Regions from separate parts of the Homo sapiens genome. Here region 2 is linked to region 1. Evidence: fine-mapped expression QTL. A gene starts in region 1. The other region holds a variant in brackets. All regions are shown on one strand. Distances are from middle to middle. Region 1 holds the start of B3GAT1 (beta-1,3-glucuronyltransferase 1). Region 2 overlaps B3GAT1 (beta-1,3-glucuronyltransferase 1).

What was found.
Region 2: its variant is fine-mapped to the expression of B3GAT1 in whole blood (TOPMed, PIP 0.94).

What each region holds. Positions count from the first base shown.
Region 1 is chr11:134,406,374-134,416,719 of GRCh38, reverse strand. It overlaps B3GAT1 (beta-1,3-glucuronyltransferase 1), which reads left to right and starts at 4,478. Exons shown (of 6, transcript NM_054025.3): 1 at 4,478-4,913. RefSeq lists an enhancer at 5,330-5,889.
Region 2 is chr11:134,380,330-134,390,675 of GRCh38, reverse strand. It overlaps B3GAT1 (beta-1,3-glucuronyltransferase 1), which reads left to right. Exons shown (of 6, transcript NM_054025.3): 2 at 2,736-3,128; 3 at 6,488-6,996; 4 at 7,670-7,966; 5 at 8,652-8,752; 6 at 9,929-10,346. The coding sequence starts at 3,017. The coding sequence ends at 8,738. Among named protein-coding and RNA genes, the nearest start is that of B3GAT1, 27 kb to the left of the region's middle. The variant G/A (reference allele first, on the strand shown) is at 4,591.

The sequences.
Region 1 (10,346 bases):
ATCTATGGACCACTAGCATATAATCCCTGAGTTGTGCTCTGACGATGAGCCTGAGTCCTGGAACTAGGCTGCCTGCCTCAAATGCTGGCTATGTCACTTACTAGGCATGTGACCTTAATTAAATTACCTAAATACTACGCCCCAGATTCCTGACCTATAAATGGAAACTATAATCGAAACTTGTCACAAACAGTACCTTGTAAATAACACCTTACATATGAAATTAGCTAACGTGCATGAAGACTTGGAACCTAACCTGGTGCATACATATAAATGGCCTAATTGAAGTTAACACTCCTAATTGCTGTTGTTTACTGCATGTCTCTGGTGCCCAGCACAGTGCCTGGCATATGACTGGAGCTCAGTAAATATTAGCTGAACACAGGAAAGCATGCACAGATGGGTAAGAGCCTCCAGATGTGTCCGGATAAAGTGCTATGGGACTGAGGGGAAGAGCAGTTCACTGCCAGAGGTGCCTGAGGGTCGGGAGGGCTATAGGAGACAGCACAAGCCACAGAGCTCAGGTTGGGAAAGGCTTCAGTGAGACTTTGGAGGTGTGGGCTCTGCAGAGTAGTTAGGGGATAGTGGGGAGGTCAAAAGGCAATCTGGGTTATTTTCACTTCTGCAAGAGGACAAAGAACGGTCCCAGGTTAGCCTCAGAGATGCTCCCCTAAGTCTGAGGGCTCTGCTCCTATCACCTCTCATCCCTCCCTCAGCCACAGAGGAAAGAAGGCAAAACAAAATGACATGACTGAAGTGTTCTAAAGCCATGTAACTGCACCCTTTCCCTGGAGGCAGAGACTGGAGAGAAGCAGGAGTCAGCCTTTTTGCACCAGCTCAGGAAAGATGCCGGCCTGGCTTCTGAGAAGAGAGGAGGGCAGAGGGAAACCTGTTGACCACATGACCATTTTCAATTTTTTATGGACAAACAAGGGTGTTCAAGATCCAAAGCTCAGACCAGAAACCTAATGAAAGGGAAGAGTTAAAAGGTCTCCTCCTCTTTCTGTATCTGGGCCATGAACTCCACCACCCAAAACAGCACATCCACACACATCCGTCCAGGAGCCACTGTGGGAACAGTTCAGACACGCCTGATAGCATGGCTGGGTCCCTGGGGAGCTCACCCTGCCTGCCGAGGCAGAGGGCAGCTCTTCCTCCTCTCACTCCCCCTGCTCTCTGGCAGCATCTGGGTGTGCCCATGCATGTGCATGTGCTGTCACCCTTGCCAGGGCAATGACGGGAGAGGACGGGCACCTTGTGGGGTGGGATTCCTCACTGAAGAATCCCACTGGGACCTTTCCACTCACATCAGCAAAATCACTGCTATAGATTCCTGGTGAAGGCAAGGGGAGATTGGATGGCCCCCAACAATCAGACTGGCTAAGACGGGTGGGGTGAGGGCCTGGGCCCCACAGGCCAGGGCGGCAAGCAGCGCAGCTGCGTTGCCTCTCTTGGGTGGTAGCTAAGAAGGACGGCACGGCTGAAAAGGCAGTATCATTAGGAGTCTGGAGCAGACCAAAACTCCTGCTGAAAGAGAGGCCAGGGCAGACAGAACCCACGAGGGGAACAATTAACTGATAAGAGTAAACTAATTGTTATTCATATTAAATTAGGGCACAGGTGATTTGGAGAAAACCTACAGACCATCCCAGATGTTTTGCAGGTTTTGCATTGCAGATGACGGTTTTACAGGACTCTTCTGGGATTCAGATTATGGGAAGTGGGCCAGGATCAGAGCGGGGGCAGGGCTCCCGTCCTGCTTAACTACACAATAAACACATAACGGTTTGTCCCAGAGGACAAACCCGGGCTTTGCATACTAAACATGCTGGTGCTAGGCTTTGGGGGCCTCTGAGAAGAGGGGCTCACTACTGGCAGGGAAGGCAGGGGGAGGGGAAGATCAATCATTCAGGGAGACCTTAGAGGTGCTCCAGATGTTTGGAGCAAGGGTCAAGCTGTGAGGATGCACCAAGTCCAGACATGGGAGGGAAGGATTTCCACAGTCCTGCAGAGGCCAAGCAGGAAGACAGGGGTGGGAGTGTGGCTGACCCGGGGGATGGTGTGTGTACACGTGTGTCTGTGTGGGTGCAGGTGCTTCAGGTACATCCGTGTGCAAGCGTTTACATGTGCACATGATGTATTTCAGAGTGTGTGTGTGTGTTCATGTGGGTGAATCTGCATGTGTAGCTGCCTCTATGAGCATGTTTTGTGCCTGCGTAGATGTCAGTACATTTGTGTGTGTCCATACACTTGGGATGTTGCCAAAACTTCCCACCAAAACGAATGGCAGGCTGTTGTCTCTTCACTGAGCCTTATCATGCTAATTTTAATCTCCTATTATTGTTTTAAATTGGCTCTAAAAATTAATACTAAAAATTCTGTAAACAGAGCCTGGAACTAAGATGCAAGACAGGTCCCTTGAAAGCGGCTTTATTATCACAATTGTTCCTGCCAGAATGCTGAGGTAAAGCCGAGAACCCCTGCAGACAGCATCTCCGAGCCACAGCCCAGCAGGACAAGTCGGACCACAGCCCACTTAGTCCAACCCTCTGTTTCATTACTGAAACCAGCCCTGAGGGGAAGTCTTTTGCTAGTGCCTTCAGAATCGGCCTGAAACCCAGGCCTCCTCGTCGCCATGTCCCTGAGCTCTCTTGAGATCACCCCTCATGGGTGTGTTTCCCTGTTGGTAAAATGAGGGTCTGGAACGAGACAGTCTTCACGGTCATTTCTGTCCTCCCATTTGGTGATTGTGTGACTGCGGCTGGCTGGCTTAGCAGAGGAGGGAGGCAATGTGCCCTCCTGGACGGCCTGGCCCCTCCTTGGTGCTCTCTGGTACCCCCGCCCATCCTGCTTCTGCACCTGCCCTTCCCCTCCCTTCAGCTGGTGTGGAGTCTAAGGAGAAGCAGAGTATGGAGACTAGGAAAATACCAGAGAACACCGACTTAGGAAAGGTCTCTTAGCAGAGTCTAAAAGAGAGGGTTGTAGTAGGGGCAGAAGAAGGCGGAGCAAGGCTGGCTGGGATTCCACTCATTAAGAGAAGGGGGAAATGCTCCTGTACCGCAGCAGGAGGTACTGAGGTTAGATTCAGAGGAAGTTTCTTGCCGGCAAAGGGGGCTGTTAAGCACAACAATGAAAGAGCGCACGACAAGGAGGAGCAGTTATCCCTAGAGATAGTCACTAAGGACACTTTCACATGTCTGTGGCATGATACGGACGGTGAGGTGCCTTCCTCCCCTCAAAATCTTGACCAAAGGGGCTGATTCTGGAGTCTCTGCCCCCTCCCCACCTGCACATCCTCAGTGGGAAGAGCAGGGCCCGGCTTGGTCCTAACAGGGCAGGAAAGCTGATGGAAAAGAGGCCCGTGGTCCTCAGCCCCAGCCCATAGCACGGGGGCACAGCTCTGGTTAAGCAGTGCCTAGCAGTGGGGCTGGAACTGGTTTCCCGGGAAGGAGGGAGACCCTAGAGAAAGTACCGACAGTCCCTGGTCCCGCCGCGAACCCCGCCATGGGAGGTGGCCTTCTCCTGGGGCTGTGAAGAGGACACAGCGGGTGTGGCCCGAATACAGGTGTCCAAGAGCACCGGGAGATGCCAACCTCTAAAACGAGTGCAAGGATGGCTTCAAAGTCTCCGACAAGCTGAAGGAGTATCTGGAATATACAGCTCCACAGAGGCACCCTACCAGTGCACCCACATACGTCCAAGTGCGCGCCCACTCACTGGCCTCCGTCCCCCGCCGACCAACACACCGCGGCAGAGGCCCGGGAAACTCCTGGAGATCCCGCTGCCCCCGGCCTCCCCGCGCCCGTCCGCCCACGCAGGCCTCCCGGGCCTCTCTCCGGAACGCCGGGTGCACCGGCCCGGAAGGGGAGGCTGGGGTGAGGCTGACGCGCGGCGGCTCGAGGTGCCCTTCCACGGGGCAGCAGACCCCGTACCCCGGCACGGCACCGTCCGCCCCCACCGGCCACCTCCCATCCGGGGTGCCTGGAGCCAAGGAAGGAGCCGCATCCCCCACCGGCTTCCCAGCTCGGCCTCTCGGTCCCAGAGCGCCGCCCCCCGCCCTCCTGCAGCAGCCCGGCCGGAAACAATCACCCTTTGAGAGAGGCTGCCAAGCTGGGCGCCAGGAGCAGCCAGGATGGAGGCGGGGTGGAATGGGGGTGCAGGCGGGGGCCGAGCTTTAACTCTCGAGAGCCGAGATCTGGGGGTGCGCTCGGCCCCTGCCCGCCACCCCTGCTCCGCCGCCTGAAGCGGGAGCCGCCTCCGCGGGGGACGGTGCCGGGGGAGGGTGGGGGGCGGTGGGGAGGTGATACCAATCCCGGGGGGGGGTCCCCTCGCCGGCCTCCCTCCTCGCGCCCCCGCCTAGGCTGGCGAGGTTGGTACCGACCATTAGCAGCTCGGGTCCCGCCGGCGCTGGCGCGGGCTCGGGGCGGGGGCGGGGCGGGGGCGGAGAGCGGGTGGGGGCGGGGCGGGAGGCGCCGGCAGAGCCGCGGCGGCACCGGCGCATCCGCCGCCACCTCGGGGACTCTGCGCCGGCCCGGTCGGCTCGGCTCCGGCCGCGCGCCCCCCTCGCCCCTCTCGCCCCCGCGCCCGCTCCCCGCTCCCCCTCCCCGCTCCCCCTCCCCGCCCCCCGCCCCCCGCCTCCCTGCCCGCGCCCTCCCTCCCGCGCGCTCCCAGCCTTCGGCCGCCGCCTCGCTGAGCCCAGAACGAGCCGGGCCGGGGCGGCGGGGCCGGGCGGGGCGGGCGGGCGCGCGGACCCCGCGGCTATGAAGTGGCCCCCGGGGGCCCGGAGCCCGACAGTCCCCGGGGAGGGAGCCGCACGCGGCCCAGGGCAGCGGTCTAGGGGCGCCGGGGCCGGGGCGTAGGGGCCGTTGCCCGCGATGGACCGCACCGGAGACGCTCCGGACTCGTCGCCGCAGGTCAGTGCTCCCCGCGCCCCCGCGGGCGCCCCGCCGCGCACAGAGCCCCTTTCTGCGTCCCCATCGGTGCCCACGCCATGTCCTCCCGGGCGCGCGCTGGGGTGTGTGTGTGTGTGTGTGTGTGTGTGTGTGTGTGCGCTGCGCGCGCTGGGGGCAGCTGGAAAGGGGGCCGAGAACCGAGCTCGGGCTGGGAGGCGCTGCTGCCGAGGGGCTGCGAAACAAAACCCGGCACAGCCTGCCCTCGTCGACCGGGATTAGGGGAAGAGCTGGTTCTCAGCAGCTTCTAACAATCGGCCCGGGCTCTCAGTCGTCAGTTCCCGGCCCCCTCAGCAGGTGGTTTCTGGTGGCCGGATGAGGAGTCAGGGGTCAGTCGTCCCCCACCTCCCCACCCCTGCTGCCCAACAGCGCTCTCTGGATCGCTCTCTGGCTCCTGGGCACTGCCAAGTTAACTCTCTTGAGGGGGCCCGAGCTCTGCGGGGCGCGCTGAGGGACCCAGGGGTAGCAAGGGTGGCAAAGGGCCCTTGGGACCTTCGGTGTAGCAAGGAGGAAGGAGGCGCGACCAGTTCACCACCCTCCCATCTGCACCTGGGCTCAGGTCTGAGGTCCCAATCCCTCCAAAGTCAGAGCACACAACTTCCAGAAAAAGGAGGCTGAGAGTTGAGGCAGGAAATAGAGAAGGAAGCCACCAGGTCCGACAGTGCCAGGGTAAGGAGGTGACAGCCCCGTACCAAGCAGCTAAGGTCAAGAACCACCCCCACATGCACACACATGGGAGCCTTGGCCAACTTCCCTGTCCCCTTCCTCCCCCAGCCAGGCCTAGCTGCATGGATTCTTGTAGAAGCTGGAGCTGAAGGACTCTGGACATACAGGAAGGGGACCTTTACTGACAGTTGCTAGCCCAGTGCATGGGCACCTGCATAGGTGGGGTGCCCAATGGGGCCTAGAGCTTGGGCTGTGTAGCACGCACTGTTGAAAATGTTGGGGTACGGATGTCGTAGGGCCTAGCACTGTGCAATGCCTGGATGTGTTTGTGTGGAAATGGGAGGCACATCACTCCCTAAGTTACTAGGGCTGTGGGGCATGTGGCTGCACAGGACTGTTGTTCTAGGGTTTTCTAAGATTTGTCTTCTGTGCTTATGTCGCCCTACCTCTGCTGGTAGCCACTGCAGAGACTGAGACATTTCCTCCCAGAGTCTGCTCAGTTGGTGACCATTAATGGCCTTACTGGACCAAACATCAAGCCTTCCCTTTCTTCCCATGGGGTGAAGACCCTTTCCCAGGGTCTTCAGACAGACTTCTCACTCTGCCCAGTCCATGCCCAGCACTGCCAAAGGTTCCAGAGCTTAGAGACATTTTCCCTCTTCCCCTTTTCATGGAAGCAGAAATACTTGCTAAGGTTAATGGGACTGGGAGAGTTAATGCATCTGTGCCCCATTCAGCACTGGAGCCAGGAGCTCGCTGTTCCTGTTTCTGTGCCTGACCCCAGGATGCTTGGGGATCACTCCAGGTCCAGGTGAGCTGGAAGCTTGCAGGCGCTGTGTTGAATATGTGTGTGTAGGTTTCTGGTTGGGCAGTTACTCACTGTTCCACCAGAAGCAGGGGGCAGGTAAATCACTGAGGAGATAAGCTCCAGCAACAGGATTGGAGCCCGTGGCGGAGACCAAGGAGCTTCACAGGAGGATGCCCTGGGGCAAGCCCAGTTCCTCAGCTTCGGCTTCTGGGGAGACCTGAAGGTTCTCTTAGTGGTTTCTCGGGGATAAGGGGACCAAGTCAGATATACTTTTCCTAGGTGTGGAGCACAGGGTGATGAGGCCGGCCAGGAGCTGGGAGTGTGAGATGGGGAAGAGGATGCACCAACCGAAAGGCTGAGCGGACAGGAGCATGGTGCTCCATTGTTTCTGGAAGAGAGGGATGAGTGTTCCTCTCTGATGAGAATGGAGAGGAGGAGAGGAACGGGCTCAGGAGGAGGAGGAATCCGAGAGAGAGCCTGACTGAGGCAGAGAAAGAGGCAGTGAGACAAGAGACAAAGGCACGGAGGCGCACTGGCGGACAGCAGAGGGAGGCACACAGGCAGAAGTCAGGGCCTCCCTGACTGAGTGGTGAGTTGGGGCAGGCTGGGGGCCTCCCCCTGTTCCCCTACATCGACCTCAGCAATTGTCCACCCCTGCAGGAGGCCCCTCACTAGAGCAGTTGGACATTCTACTGAGGAAGGTGCTTTCCTGTGGCTCTCAGGAATGTGAGGGTCTTTTAGACAGAAGCCCAAAGGCAGAGGGAGGCCAGGCTATGAGGTCAAGCACATCAAGAGCTTGCAGGGACTTTCAGGGACACCCTTCACCCCTGAGCATCTCACAATGCTGAGGGCTCCTCTCCATCTTCTGGCCCTGCCCCAGCCCTCCTGGTCCTGGAATGCAGGGCAGTGGGGAAGGATGTGGGGTCTGGGGAAACCTGGCACTCAGGAGAAGAAGAGAAGTCATGCACCCCCTCCCCAGGCCCCCAGGCAAAAAGACCTTTGGGGACCCTACTGAAGACTAGCCAGGGGACATGGAAGAAGTGCAGTGGGGACAGGCCCTTGGCCAGGCTGTCTGAGGTCCAGTCTCATCTCCATCTGTGGCTAGCCGAGTAGACTTTGAAAAAAACAGAGCTCTCTAAGCCCCGGCTTCCTGGCAGTCTATAAATTGGGAAACTGTCATCTCACCAGTTTTTAGAAGAAATACTAGATGAATTTTAATTTAATCTATTTATTTTATACACCCTCACCCCCTTGCTTCCAGGATGAGGATGGCTCTAGAATTTGGAGTAGCAGCGTCAGGCCAGCCCTGGAGCCAATCCCACTGGAATCGGTGCAGGCTGTCCCACCTCCCTCCTCACCCCACTGGAATAGGTGGAGGCTATCCCACCTCCCTCCTCACCCCACTGGAATCGGTGCAGGCTGTCCCACCTCCCTCCTCACCCCACTGGAATAGGTGCAGGCTGTCCCACCTCCCTCCTCACCCCACTGGAGTCGGTGCAGGCTGTCCCACCTCCCTCCTCACCCCACTGGAATAGGTGCAGGCTGTCCCACCTCCCTCCTCACCCCACTGGAATCGGTGCAGGCTGTCCCACCTCCCTCCTCACCCCACTGGAATAGGTGCAGGCTATCCCACCTCCCTCCTCACCCCACTGGAATCGGTGCAGGCTGTCCCACCTCCCTCCTCACCCCACTGGAATAGGTGCAGGCTGTCCCACCTCCCTCCTCACCCCACTGGAATAGGTGCAGGCTATCCCACCTCCCTCCTCACCCCACTGGAATCGGTGCAGGCTGTCCCACCTCCCTCCTCACCCCACTGGAATCGGTGCAGGCTGTCCCACCTCCCTCCTCACCCCACTGGAGTCGGTGCAGGCTGTCCCACCTCCCTCCTCACCCCACTGGAATCGGTGGAGGCTGTCCCACCTCCCTCCTCACCCCACTGGAATCGGTGCAGGCTGTCCCACCTCCCTCCTCACCCCACTGGAATCGGTGCAGGCTGTCCCACCTCCCTCCTCACCCCACTGGAATCGGTGCAGGCTGTCCCACCTCCCTCTTCACCCCACTAGAATAGGTGCAGGCTGTCCCACCTCCCTCCTCACCCCACTGGAATCGGTGCAGGCTGTCCCACCTCCCTCCTCACCCGCTTGAGTCCTCACACCTCCAGACTCTGGGCTGGACCCACCCTTCCTTATCCCAACCCAAAGAACCCAGAGCCCGCCTTGGCTCAGAGTTCGTCCTTGCCAAACACAAAATAATACTTTCGTGTCTAATTATTGTTAAATGTAATCCTTCCAATTTATCAGCAAATGGTCGTCTAAAAAAAAAAATCTTGACACCAAAATTCCAGATCTGTGAGCCCTTCTTATCCATGCTGAAAGGTGACAGGGTGGTCAGAGAGCCCCCAAAATTCAGTTCACTTGCACCAACACTGACCAAGCACTTACGGTGTTGGAGGCTCTGCACCAGGTGCTGGGAACGTGAAACATCAAATAATCCAAAAGTCCAAATCTAGTGTTTTCTGTTTAGCTTTGGAAGGGTTATGTGGGTTGCTTTTTTTTTTTTTGCAGCTACAGCAAATTTACTTTTCTAATGAGGTTTAGCTCCAGCCAATATTAAAATGAGCCTGCGCTCCCTGCGCACACACCAGCTGACAGCAGGGCAGGAGGCAGCCTCCGCGCCAAGTGCCTGGCAGGGATTAAGGCTTTACCTCTGATAAGCGCAAAAGTGGAGAGTATGAGTCTGGATCAAGAGTTGACTGGATTTGAGGACTAACCTTGCCCAGGGGGCTGTGGATTCCACGGCTCAGTCTTCTGAGCCATGGCAGGAGCTCTCTCTTCTCATACGTGGGAAATGTGAGCCAGCTCTCTGCTCACAGGAAGAAGACCTAGAGGGATGGGGGAGTGGAGACATGACGGCACGGCGTGGGGAGTGCCAATGGCACTGTAGTTGGAGGCCTGGCTCTGCCCGTCCTCTCTGGCTGGCTATGTGGGCTGGGGTCCTCTCCTTCCCCTCTGCCCATCTTGCTTCCTCTGTCTGTGGCAGGTGAGCAATCTGGCCTCTGAGGCCATGAGTCTCTCTTTGAACCCTGGGCTACTCATTTGTCCATTGTTCAGAAACTGTTAGAGCCCCACACTGGGCATGGGGGGCTGCATCCGTCCCCACCCTGAGCAGCTCCTCAGTCACACCAGCCACATTTCAAGTGGGCAACAGCCACATGTGGCTAGAGGCTGCCATCTTGGGCGGTACAGATACAGAACGTTCCCGGCAGCACGGAAAGTTCTAGTGGGCAGAGTGTTGTGGACCTGAGCCTGCACAGGTGTTTTGGGCACGGAAAGTTCTAGTGGGCAGAGTGTTGTGGACCTGAGCCTGCACAGGTGTTTTGGGCACGGAAAGTTCTAGTGGGCAGAGTGTTGTGGACCGGAGCCTGCACAGGTGTTTTGGCAGGGTGGCTAAGTGCCAGGTCCTACTGGCTGGATTCAGGTCCTAGTTCTGCCACTTAGTAGCTGTGTGGCCTCAGGACGTTGCTTAACCTCTCTGTGCCTCAGACTTCTCACTTTTAAAATGAGGGTAATAATAGGATGTTTCTGAGGAGGAAATGAGTCATTACAGTTAATCATGCTAATCACTCAGAGCATGCAACAGCAAGAGCTTTTTTATTTTTTATTTGAAAATAGAAAGCCATTTTTATTATTCATTTATTTAACAATTCACTTAAAGGCTTATTGAAAAGCCCACTCTGCCAGGCCGCCCCCCCACCCACCCAATCAACACAAGTCCTGGCTACCTCTGTGACCCTTCCTGAGCCTCCACCTCCTCCCCTAGGATGGGATTATTCCTGACTGAGTGCTCACTGAAGCCCAGGGAGCTAGAATGAGATGAGGAAAGCAACCTTGCTTTGTGCAGACGCAGCCAGATAGAGGGGCTGA
Region 2 (10,346 bases), 26 kb after region 1:
GGGCTGCTGTGACGTTGCAGGAGCAGGTGCATGTGAAGAGCTGAGCCTCATCTTCGGACATCTCTCATGCTATAGGGAAGTTTGTATAAACAACAGTGCAAGCGGGGGCTGAGAGGCTGCCCCAAAGGAAAGGCAGTGGCCCACAGGGACTGAGCTGGCAGGACACTCATCTTCTCTCCTTGGCTTTCTCCATCCTGGTATTAGAACCTGCACCAACACCAGGAGCACTTGAGAAAGCTCCTTCGAGAGTCTCTGAGAACACAGAAGAAATCTTCCTGGACATTTCTGAAGCCCCAGCCAGGCCCAGCCTCCCCATCCTTCATCAGATGTGGCCTAAGATCCAAACGTGTCTTGGCCAAAGAACCAAAACGTGTCTTGACACGCAGCCCCATGCAGCCCCAGCAGTGGCCTGGGTGTGGAGGGACAGGCTAAATCTGGGGGATGTGGCATGAAGTCACTTGCATCTCAGACCACAAGACCCAGCAGGCATCCCGTGTGGGGTTCTAGGCTCTGTCCCTCACTGGGCCAGCAAAGAGGAGTTTACGGGCGGACACAGACACACACGGCCTAGAATGTCCACTAGGGGAACTACGTGCCTGTGACGTTGAACCCCAGTGGGTCTTCCACTCCCCGGGGAATGGGTGGGGGAGACTCTCTGGATGGAGTGGGCCTCTGATGGCGGGGTGTGGGCAGGGGATGCCGGCCGTCCTGGGAAACCACAGTGCTCCTTAATGGAGGGGATGCCGGCCGTCCCGGGAAACCACAGTGCTCCTTAATGGAAGACAAATCCTGGTCTTCCACAGGCGTCAGAACTATTTGGAGAGAGGACCCGGTGAGGAGAGGAAAACACGCTATTTTGGAAACTCAGGGGCTAAAAACCCTCCTCGGCCATAGCACTCGACTCTGCCTGAAATGGTGAGCACACGTGAGCTGGGGCAGGAGCAGGCAGCATGGCCCCCAGGTGAGGTACTGTCCGTATCCAACACTGGGCACTGGGACGGGTGGGCACAGTGAGGCTGGCTGGGCTGCCCGAGGCTGCCTGCCCTCCCCACCACCCCCACGGGTCCCTGCTGCATCATGCATGGTGCTCAGCACAGAAGTGAAAAGGGAGGAGAAGAGGATGTGACAGTTTCCAAGGCGGTCAGGAGGTCTCTTCGCCCAGTGTCCTTGCCATGTGAGAGAACGGTTCCCAGAGATGCTACCAGTGGACCCTCTGCAGGACTGAGGAATCCCAGTGGCTCATTCTCCTCACTTGGGCCCCCTGCTGTTCTCATTTTGGAGGACTGTCTCCCCTCAATGTGGCAGCCCCTGCGGGGACCCCTCTTCTTGCTGCTGCCCAGCCCAGCACCTGGTGCTCTGTCCTGCACAGAGCGGTGCTCCACAAGGATGTCCTATTGACACGGAAGAGGAAGGCACTCTCGTACTTCCCCCCAGGGACCATCCCAGAAACATCTCTTCTTTGTCCTCAAAAGACTGTCACCAAAATGCAAATTGAAACCACAGTGAGATACTATCTCACACCAGTCAGAATGGCTATTACTAAAAAGCCAAAAAATATTAGATGCTGATGAGGCTGCAGAGAAAAGGCAACACGTATACTCTGTTGGTGGGAATGTAAATTAGTTCAGCCACTATGGAAAGCAATTTGGAGATCTCTCAAGAACTTAAAACAGAGCTGCCATTCTAGCCAGCAGTCCCATTACTGGGTATGTATCCAAAGGAAAATAAAGTGTTTCACAAAAAAAACACCTGCACCTGTATGTTCATCGCAGCACTATTCCCAATAGCAAAGGCATGGAATCAATCTAGGTGCCCATCAGTGGTGAACTGGGTAAAGAAAACATGGTGCATATACAGCAAGGAATACTACACAGCCATAAAAAAGGACAAAATCATGGCCTTTGCAGCAGCCTGGATGCAGCTGGAGGCCATTATCCTGAGCAAATTGACACAGGAACAGAAAACCAAACACGATGCATTCTCACTTATGAGTGAGAGCTAAACACTGGGTACTCATGACTGTAAACATGAGAAGAATACACACTGAGGACTCTCAAAGGAAGAACGGCTGAAAAACGCCCTGTTGGGTACTATGCTCATACCTGGGCAGCGGGATTCATCATACTCCAGATCTCAGCATCACATGCAATATGACCCATAACAAACCTGCACATGTGCCCCCAAATCTAAAATGTTGAAATTATTTTTAATATAATAATTCGTGGTCCATATATGGTTAAAAAAAAGAAAAAAGAGAGAGAGAAAATAAAACCTCTCACCCCTTTATCCAGGCTTTGATAAGTAGCTGGCATTTTAGGGCTGCACGGGAGTTACCCTGTTTAATTCTGAGAATGACCTTATGAGGTAGGGATCCACAGTGCCCCATTTTATAGATGGGAAAACTGTGGCATGGAGAACGGAAATGACTTGGCAAAGGTCTTACAGCCTGTGGGTGGCACAGTTGGGATTTAAACCTGGTGTCTCTGCAGTCTGTGCTTCTGACCCCTGCACCCTACTGACTTTCATAAATGGAGCAGAGCCATGGCCCTGTGCCTGTGGGAAGGACAGAGCCCATTCCACTCTAACAGGCAGACAAAAGAGGTCCTCAGGTGATGGACAGTTGAGGCTCCATTGTGGAACCCCCGATGCTGTGTGTCCCAGAGCAGGGCCCAGCCTTGCTGGCATCCATTCCTATACCTGGGTCTCTGGCTATCCGCTTCTGCTCTCTCTTGCAGGTGTCCACCCCCCAGGGTTCCTGACCCCTGCCCCTGGACAGCGACCCCTTCTCAGACTCCAGTTGGGCCGGACTCTCCAAACCTGCTTCCGCAATGGGTGGGTTGTGAGTGCTGGTAAGACCTGCTAGCCAACATTCAGCTGCTCTGTCCTCTCCATGCCTGGCCGGCCCGGCCCATGCCTGTTCTTTTCTCCCCTGTGCTGCCGCCGCCCGTGGCCGCCCCTCTCCTGAACTTACCGCCACTCAGGTAATGAGGAGCCGTGGGTGCAGCCAGCCTTGGAGATGCCGAAGAGACGGGACATCCTAGCGATCGTCCTCATCGTGCTGCCCTGGACTCTGCTCATCACTGTCTGGCACCAGAGCACCCTCGCACCCCTGCTCGCGGTACATAAGGGTGAGCACGCACGCATGCCCTGCCTGCCCAGCTGGGCCTTGGTAGTGACAGTGACCACAGCTGACACGCAGGGTTCTTGCTTGCACTCACTTAGCAGCTAGGAGGAACCACGGGATCATCTAGGCCCCTTCATGAGTCTTGCACCCCTTTGGGAATGGGAAGCTAATGGAAGCTACCCACACAGTTTTAAGATGCCTGGGATGGTAGGTTGGCAGACACCAAGACAGTTGCCTTGAAAGAAGAGCTTGTTACTCTCAGCACCCAAGAGGAGGGGGCACGCCCTGCCCCCTGGGGAAGTGCTGAGGTCGGAGGTGGGAAGTGAAGGGAGGGGGAGGTGGGAAGTGGAGGGAGTGGGAGTCTTTAGTGTGGTTTTGGTAGGAAGGAAAGTGGTTTTCATAGGAAGGGAAGGGCGAAGCACTGTCGGCAGCTGAGCTGGCCCAGAATTGCATAGTCTGAAGAAAGTCAGTGGGTTTAGGATATGGGTGTGGTTTCTAATTGTCTGGTATCGCCCTGGGGTGGTTTAGGGCAGCGGAAGATTGGCTTGGGTGGGAGAGCTCCATAAAGGTGGTAGTGGGTATGAGCTCTAGATCAGGTAGTTTGCATATGAAAAGTGTGTTTGCAGGCAAGGTGTGTACTGTCACTAGGAATTAGCTAGTCCCGGGAGGGGCAGTCCCTCCCCATATCTGCAAGTCCCCCAAGATGTCGACGCATCTTAAAATACAGAAAAACTTAAAAAACAAACATCATTAATACACACACATACACAGAAAGACACGCATGTACAACTTCACATGCCATTTCATGACATGCAAGGAAAGCGACCATTCTGAAGTGGATGGTGGGGGAGGAATAGGATTTCTGGCCTGCAGTGTGTTTTAAACCCTTTCACAGAGAGTATATTGTTTGCCTCTCTTCTTTTCCTGTGTAGGAAACCCTGATCTAGTGCTACCTGGTGGAAATAGGGCTGGAGAGAGGAAAAGTCCCGTGAAGAACTAGTGGAAGAACTAGGGGTAGAACTCCTTTCCCCTGGCTCTGGGTCCTGGGTCGCCTTTCCCTCTCACTCCCAAACCTGCCACGCACCCCACAGCTGGCTGCCCCAGCTCTTCAGCACTTTGTCTCGTGCTTTTCTGCCCCCTCCCCCACTTACATGCACAGGCTCACGTGGGGTCAGGCAGCTGTTCGTTTGCAGCGTGCATGATACCACCTGGCAGTGTGATAAACAAGAAGGCAGCACCAAGCCCATGCAGAGAGAGGTGGTGAGTGCCTGTAACCCCAAGATGCAGGCAGTGTCCAAAAATCACAGCCTGAAGTCGTGCTGCTCCTCACAGTCAAATACCAAGTCCTGCAAACCCATAGCTGTTCCTGAAGCTTCCATGAGGAAGGGCCAAGCTCAACATTGCGGCAGCCCACTGCCCGTGGCTGGCACTTGGCGCCTGTCTTCCTGACATCATCCTCTCCTCCC[G/A]ACCCTAGGGCCTCTTCTCTGTGCTTGTCAGTTCAGAATCATTGTTATCTTGCAAATACATCACTCCAGAGGGGTTAAAACTACTATATATAAAGCGACATGATATCGTGTCGATTGCGTTCTTGGCAGAGCTCCAGCGCTGGAGACGTCAGGCTGTTTGCTAAGCACTGATGGTGCTGCCTGAGGCTGGGGACTTGGCATTCTGTCTCCCCAGAGCATGCCAAGAGCAAGCGAATGAAAGCTGCAGCTGAGTGAAGTTAGGGTCACCAGGAGGCCTTTAGGACCCAAAATTGCAGACGCCCTGAAGCCAATGGGAAGGGCGAAGCCCAGGAGCACACGCAGTAGCCGTGCCCTAATGTATGGGGACTGTCCAAGGGCACAGGTCCTCTGCGGCCTTGGGATGATTTGGGTGGCAGAGAGGTGGACAAAGTGGCTCCAAACTTCCTCTCAAGGCCTCAGTTTCCAAAACTTGACTGCCCATAGGATGAATTAAGTCCTCTGTCTAGGTCAGAACCCTAGACACCCATCCCGCTTTCTTCCACGTTGCTCTTCTCACAGTTTGACCCCAGACTCCTCTAAGCAGCCCCCTCTGAGCGACTGCGTGTGTGCTGGTTTCCTCCCCCGACCCTCAGCAATTGCTGTGTGCCTGGTGCCATTTGCCCATGAGAACTCCTGAAGAGCCACGAGCAGGCCTCCTGGGTCCGTTCAGATGAGCTCCACGCTAGCGTGCCACACACCCCACATGCTGCCGATGACAGTGGCCGGAGGGAGGCAGCAGAAGAGCTGATGCCCGGGGTCCTCCCCTTTGGTGTGACTTGCTGGTTCTGTCCCCACCGATTGCCTGAAGCCAGAAGGAAGCAGAGTTGGCCACTGCCCTTCCGCAAGAGAGGAAACTGTGCCTGGCGGTGCTCTCAGCCCTTGTGGACTCATTAATCCACATAATAACTCGATAAGTTCGATGCTATTATTAGCTCCATTTTACAGTTGCTGAAATTGAGGCGCCAGAAGCTAAGCAGCTTGCTCAAGGGCACAGGGTTCGTAACGGCAGAAGTGGGCAGGGTCTCAGCCCAGGCACCGGGATTTCTTACCTTTACCACCCGACGGTAAGCTAGGACAGGAGGGCCACACCGTCATTGGTGCATGAGCCCTTCCGATGGAAGGACAGAATTTGGAGAGAAGGGACGCATGGAAAACAAGAATCCCAATGGCCCTGATTTCTCCTCTTGCTAGGACTGCTAGATCTACATATACCTTGGCAACTATGGGCAAAACCCACGAGAATAAAATGCGGTGAAATAGGAAGTTCTGCACCGAGATTCAGAGAATGCCTTACGTAAGGCCAGGAGGGAAGAGGCCCCGCTTGACTGGAGGGCTTGAGAACTCCGGGAGCTGCCTCAGGCTCCTGCGGGCCCACAGTGGGCCCTGGTTGCTGCCGCAGTGCTGCGGCCCTGGGGCTTTGTGGCGTCCACACCACAGCGGGGCAGTGCCACGTGCTCTGCTAGCCCAGCCCTGCACAGGGCAGTGTGGCCAGCTCCCTCCAGATGAGTAGGGCTAGGGAGGGGAGGGTCGGGACGCCTTTTCATAGGAAAGTCAGCACATTCAGGAACTGAGGATGCAATCTTGGAATATGGGCAACTGCGCTCAAATAGCTAGAGGGCTGCAAAGGTGGGAAGGAAGAGGTTATGTCTGTGTCATCAGAGCTAGGACCCTCCCAGAGAGGATTCCAGGGCTGCAGATTTCAACCTTAGAGCTAACAGGTCAGGCAAGGCGGGGGTCTGAGCAGCCCCTGCAGCGGGGGAGGAGGAGGGTGCCCTGGCAGGGTGGGTGGCGTCCCGCTCTGAATCCAGGGCCGTAGCCGGCGCTCTCCTCCCACATCGCCGGTCTCCCGACTCCGCAGATGAGGGCAGTGACCCCCGACGCGAAACGCCGCCCGGCGCCGACCCCAGGGAGTACTGCACGTCTGACCGCGACATCGTGGAGGTGGTGCGCACCGAGTACGTGTACACGCGGCCCCCGCCATGGTCCGACACGCTGCCCACCATCCACGTGGTGACGCCCACCTACAGCCGCCCGGTGCAGAAGGCCGAGCTGACGCGCATGGCCAACACGCTGCTGCACGTGCCCAACCTCCACTGGCTGGTGGTGGAGGATGCGCCGCGCCGGACGCCGCTGACCGCGCGCCTGCTGCGCGACACCGGCCTCAACTACACGCACCTGCACGTGGAGACGCCCCGCAACTACAAGCTGCGCGGAGACGCCCGCGACCCACGCATCCCGCGGGGCACCATGCAGCGCAACCTGGCCCTGCGCTGGCTGCGCGAGACCTTCCCGCGCAACTCCAGCCAGCCTGGCGTGGTCTACTTCGCCGACGACGACAACACCTACAGCCTGGAGCTCTTCGAAGAGGTGAGGGAGGGCCCGACAGTGAGCAGCGGGACCTCCGGCTGCGGGGAGTGGAGGGGCTTCCCGAGAAGGGGGTGTGGGTGCGGAGGCGCGCGCAGGGGGAACCCGGGAAGCCGGGCTGGGAGCGGGGCAGGCAGCAGAGAGCCAGGGAAAGGGATGGAACTGCGGGCTAAAGCATCCCCCACAAGTTAGGGGGAAGACAGGTGGCTCTGGAGCCCCTAAACCATATTCCTGGCCCTAGAGGTATCTCCTGAATGGGTTTGTGAGTAGGTCATTCTGCGTGACTACCAGAAACCTCTTAGGTGGAACAGTTGGAGCTCGCCTGAGTATATGGGCTGTGTTAGTCTCGGGGACAAGGGGAGTCACTTCACACTCTAGAGCGGGGAGACTGAAAGGTTTTAGACAAGGGAGAAAACAGCAGCAGGGCCACGCTGAGAAGGGGAAGACCAGGCCGTCTGAGAGGTCAGGTGTCCCCGGCAGCCCAGGGCAGGTTCTTCTCAGGTGCCCAACCCATGGGATGGGTCCTGGGGGCAGGGCTGTACTGGACACCCCCTAGGTGGCCGCGGCTGGCCATGGGCATAGATAGAGGTGGCTGAAGGATGTCGCCTCCCTTGGGCACGCGCGGCCGTCCTCATCTGCAGTGCCGGCGCCCTGACTCTGGACCCCCCCCTTGTAGATGCGCAGCACCAGGAGGGTGTCCGTGTGGCCCGTCGCCTTCGTGGGTGGCCTGCGGTACGAGGCCCCACGGGTGAACGGGGCAGGGAAGGTGGTCGGCTGGAAGACGGTGTTTGACCCCCACCGGCCATTTGCAATAGACATGGCTGGATTTGCCGTCAACCTGCGGCTCATTCTGCAGCGAAGCCAGGCCTACTTCAAGCTGCGAGGTGTGAAGGGAGGCTACCAGGAAAGCAGCCTCCTTCGAGAACTTGTCACCCTCAACGACCTGGAGCCCAAGGCAGCCAACTGCACCAAGGTGAGACCCTCCGCAGAACTGACAGCTGTGATGCAATGTCTCAAGTACATCCAGACCCTCCCTACAGATCGGGAGAAGGAAACAGAGGCCTCAAAATAGCCTGGGCTTTCTGGAACCCCCTCCCAGGAAGGCAGTGTATCACCTGTAAGGCAGCGACACTGCGGACAGGCAGGGAAAGGGAGAGCAATGGCCACTGGGGAGTTATAACCTCCCACAGAACAGCCGTGCTCCAGCACCTCCCTGCTGAGCACTCATGCACACACACATGCCTACGCGTGCACACATGTGCGCACACACACATGCAGATGCACACACATGCACACATATATGCAGGTGAACATGCACAGACATGCACATATACACATATGCACATGAACATGCATACGTATGCACACACACACACTTGGGAAGTCTTGGGGCTTCTCTTTTCTGTAGTTCTAGACTTCCCATTTCCAGCAGGTATTCCGAAGGCATCACATGTAAAAACAGCAAAAATGAGGGGGTAGTCGAGAGCCACAGAAAATAAATAAAAAACAATTGAGAAAATCTTGATGGAACAATTGAAAAACTCTCGAAGGAAAAGGAGGGGCAGGAGAAATGTTTACACAGTGTGGGAGGGAGCAGGGAGGCAGCAGAGTGAGGTCAGGGGCCTGTCCCACCATGTTTTGCATCTCTGGGCACACAGATCCTGGTGTGGCACACACGGACAGAGAAGCCAGTGCTGGTGAATGAGGGCAAGAAGGGCTTCACTGACCCCTCGGTGGAGATCTGAGCCTCAGGATGCAGGTATGGGCATGACGAGGGTGGGCCACACACTGGGCAGGGCGGCACCAGGTTGGGCCGAATCAACTGTCTCATTCTTTTCCTCTTGGGCTTTCACTGTGGAGGACAGGGCAGATGTGGGCAGGAGTGGAGGGCGTCGTCACCACAGTCCCCTTCCCACTGGGCCACCTGAAAGTATCCAGGCATTAACTTTCACCCACGCAGCTGGGTCCTTCTGCCACCAGACTCTTCAGAGGGTGTCACCTTCCAAACATCTTGCTGATTTTTCTGCTGGCAGTGACGCCTGCACCCCACAAGGCACTGCCATTCAGACTCTCGCTGGCCAGCGTCTGTCCCCCCAAGTCTGCCTCTTCCCCTGTGGATTCCTTCACCACGTGGCCATGGTGAGGACTCACGGACTCGCTGCTCCACAGCAATGAGCCCACGGCTGTCATAGTGAGAGGTAGCGCAGAGTGACAGCACGGACCCAGAGCCCACCTCAGCTCCCAGGACCCCTGCTCTTCACTGTTTGACCTGACTTGACTTTTCTGGGCCTCAGTTTCTTCATCTGTGAAGTAGGTTGCTGAGAGCACCTAGAACAGTTCATGGCACTTAAATCTCATCAGTGTGGCTATTTTTATTCAAGTCTTTAAAGCCCTCTCTGGAAGTAGGCCACAGGATCCACCTACACTTCAGAAGCAAAGAAATGATGTTGAGAGAAGCTAAATGAATGTTCCAAGGTGACACACTGGCACGAGTGAATTGTGCTGGGTGGTTGGCAAAGCCAGGCATTTTCAGGGGCTTTTCTGTGATCTTATCCTGTCTCTTAAAAGCAGCTGGTACTCCTGACTCCCTACTCTAGGTTATGCCAAACAGAGGTTGAGGCCTGAGACAGACATTTGTCCTCTTGCCCTGGAGCTAAGCAATAGCTTCTGTATTGTGTTTGCCCGCAGAGGACCACAGGGTGTCACTCAGTCACCTTGGCCAGCGCCACTTAGAATGCATCTGTACCGAGCCTCACTTCTGCCTCCTGCCCTCACTGCCCTCACTGGAAGCACCTTCCCCACCTGCCCCTCAGAAAGGCCCCCACAGGACCTGGGGGCCTGGGCTTTGCAGAGGTCCTGGTGGCCCTGCCTGGCCATTCCCTCCCCGGCCCCACCCTCAGCCGACACCTCACTCATTCCTCCTCTCCCCTCACAGGAGCCTCCTCCTCAGACCCTGTTCTTGGCCTTCCATCCTCTCCCCACGGCTGATGGTCCCTCCAAGGCCGACTCCTAAGGAATCACCATCACCCTCCTTTCTATTCTGGGGGCTTCTGAGAGAGCCCAGCCTGATGCCAGAACAAAGGACAGAGAATTTAAGCACAGAAATCCCAGACCTGTTGTTCTCTCCATCCAGCGTGACCAGGGCCCGAGAGACCTGATGGCCAGGGTGGGGTGTCCAGCACCAGCCAAGCTGGTGCTCCAGCGCACCTCCCCAGAGCTCCCCGCACTGACGGGGCTGCAGGAGCAGGTGCAGTGGGCGCCCACACTGGCCCTGCAGTGATGCAGGGCGGGAGGGAGATAAGAAGACCCCGCAGTCAAGTGGAGCATGGCCCTCCCTGGCTCCCTGTCCCTGG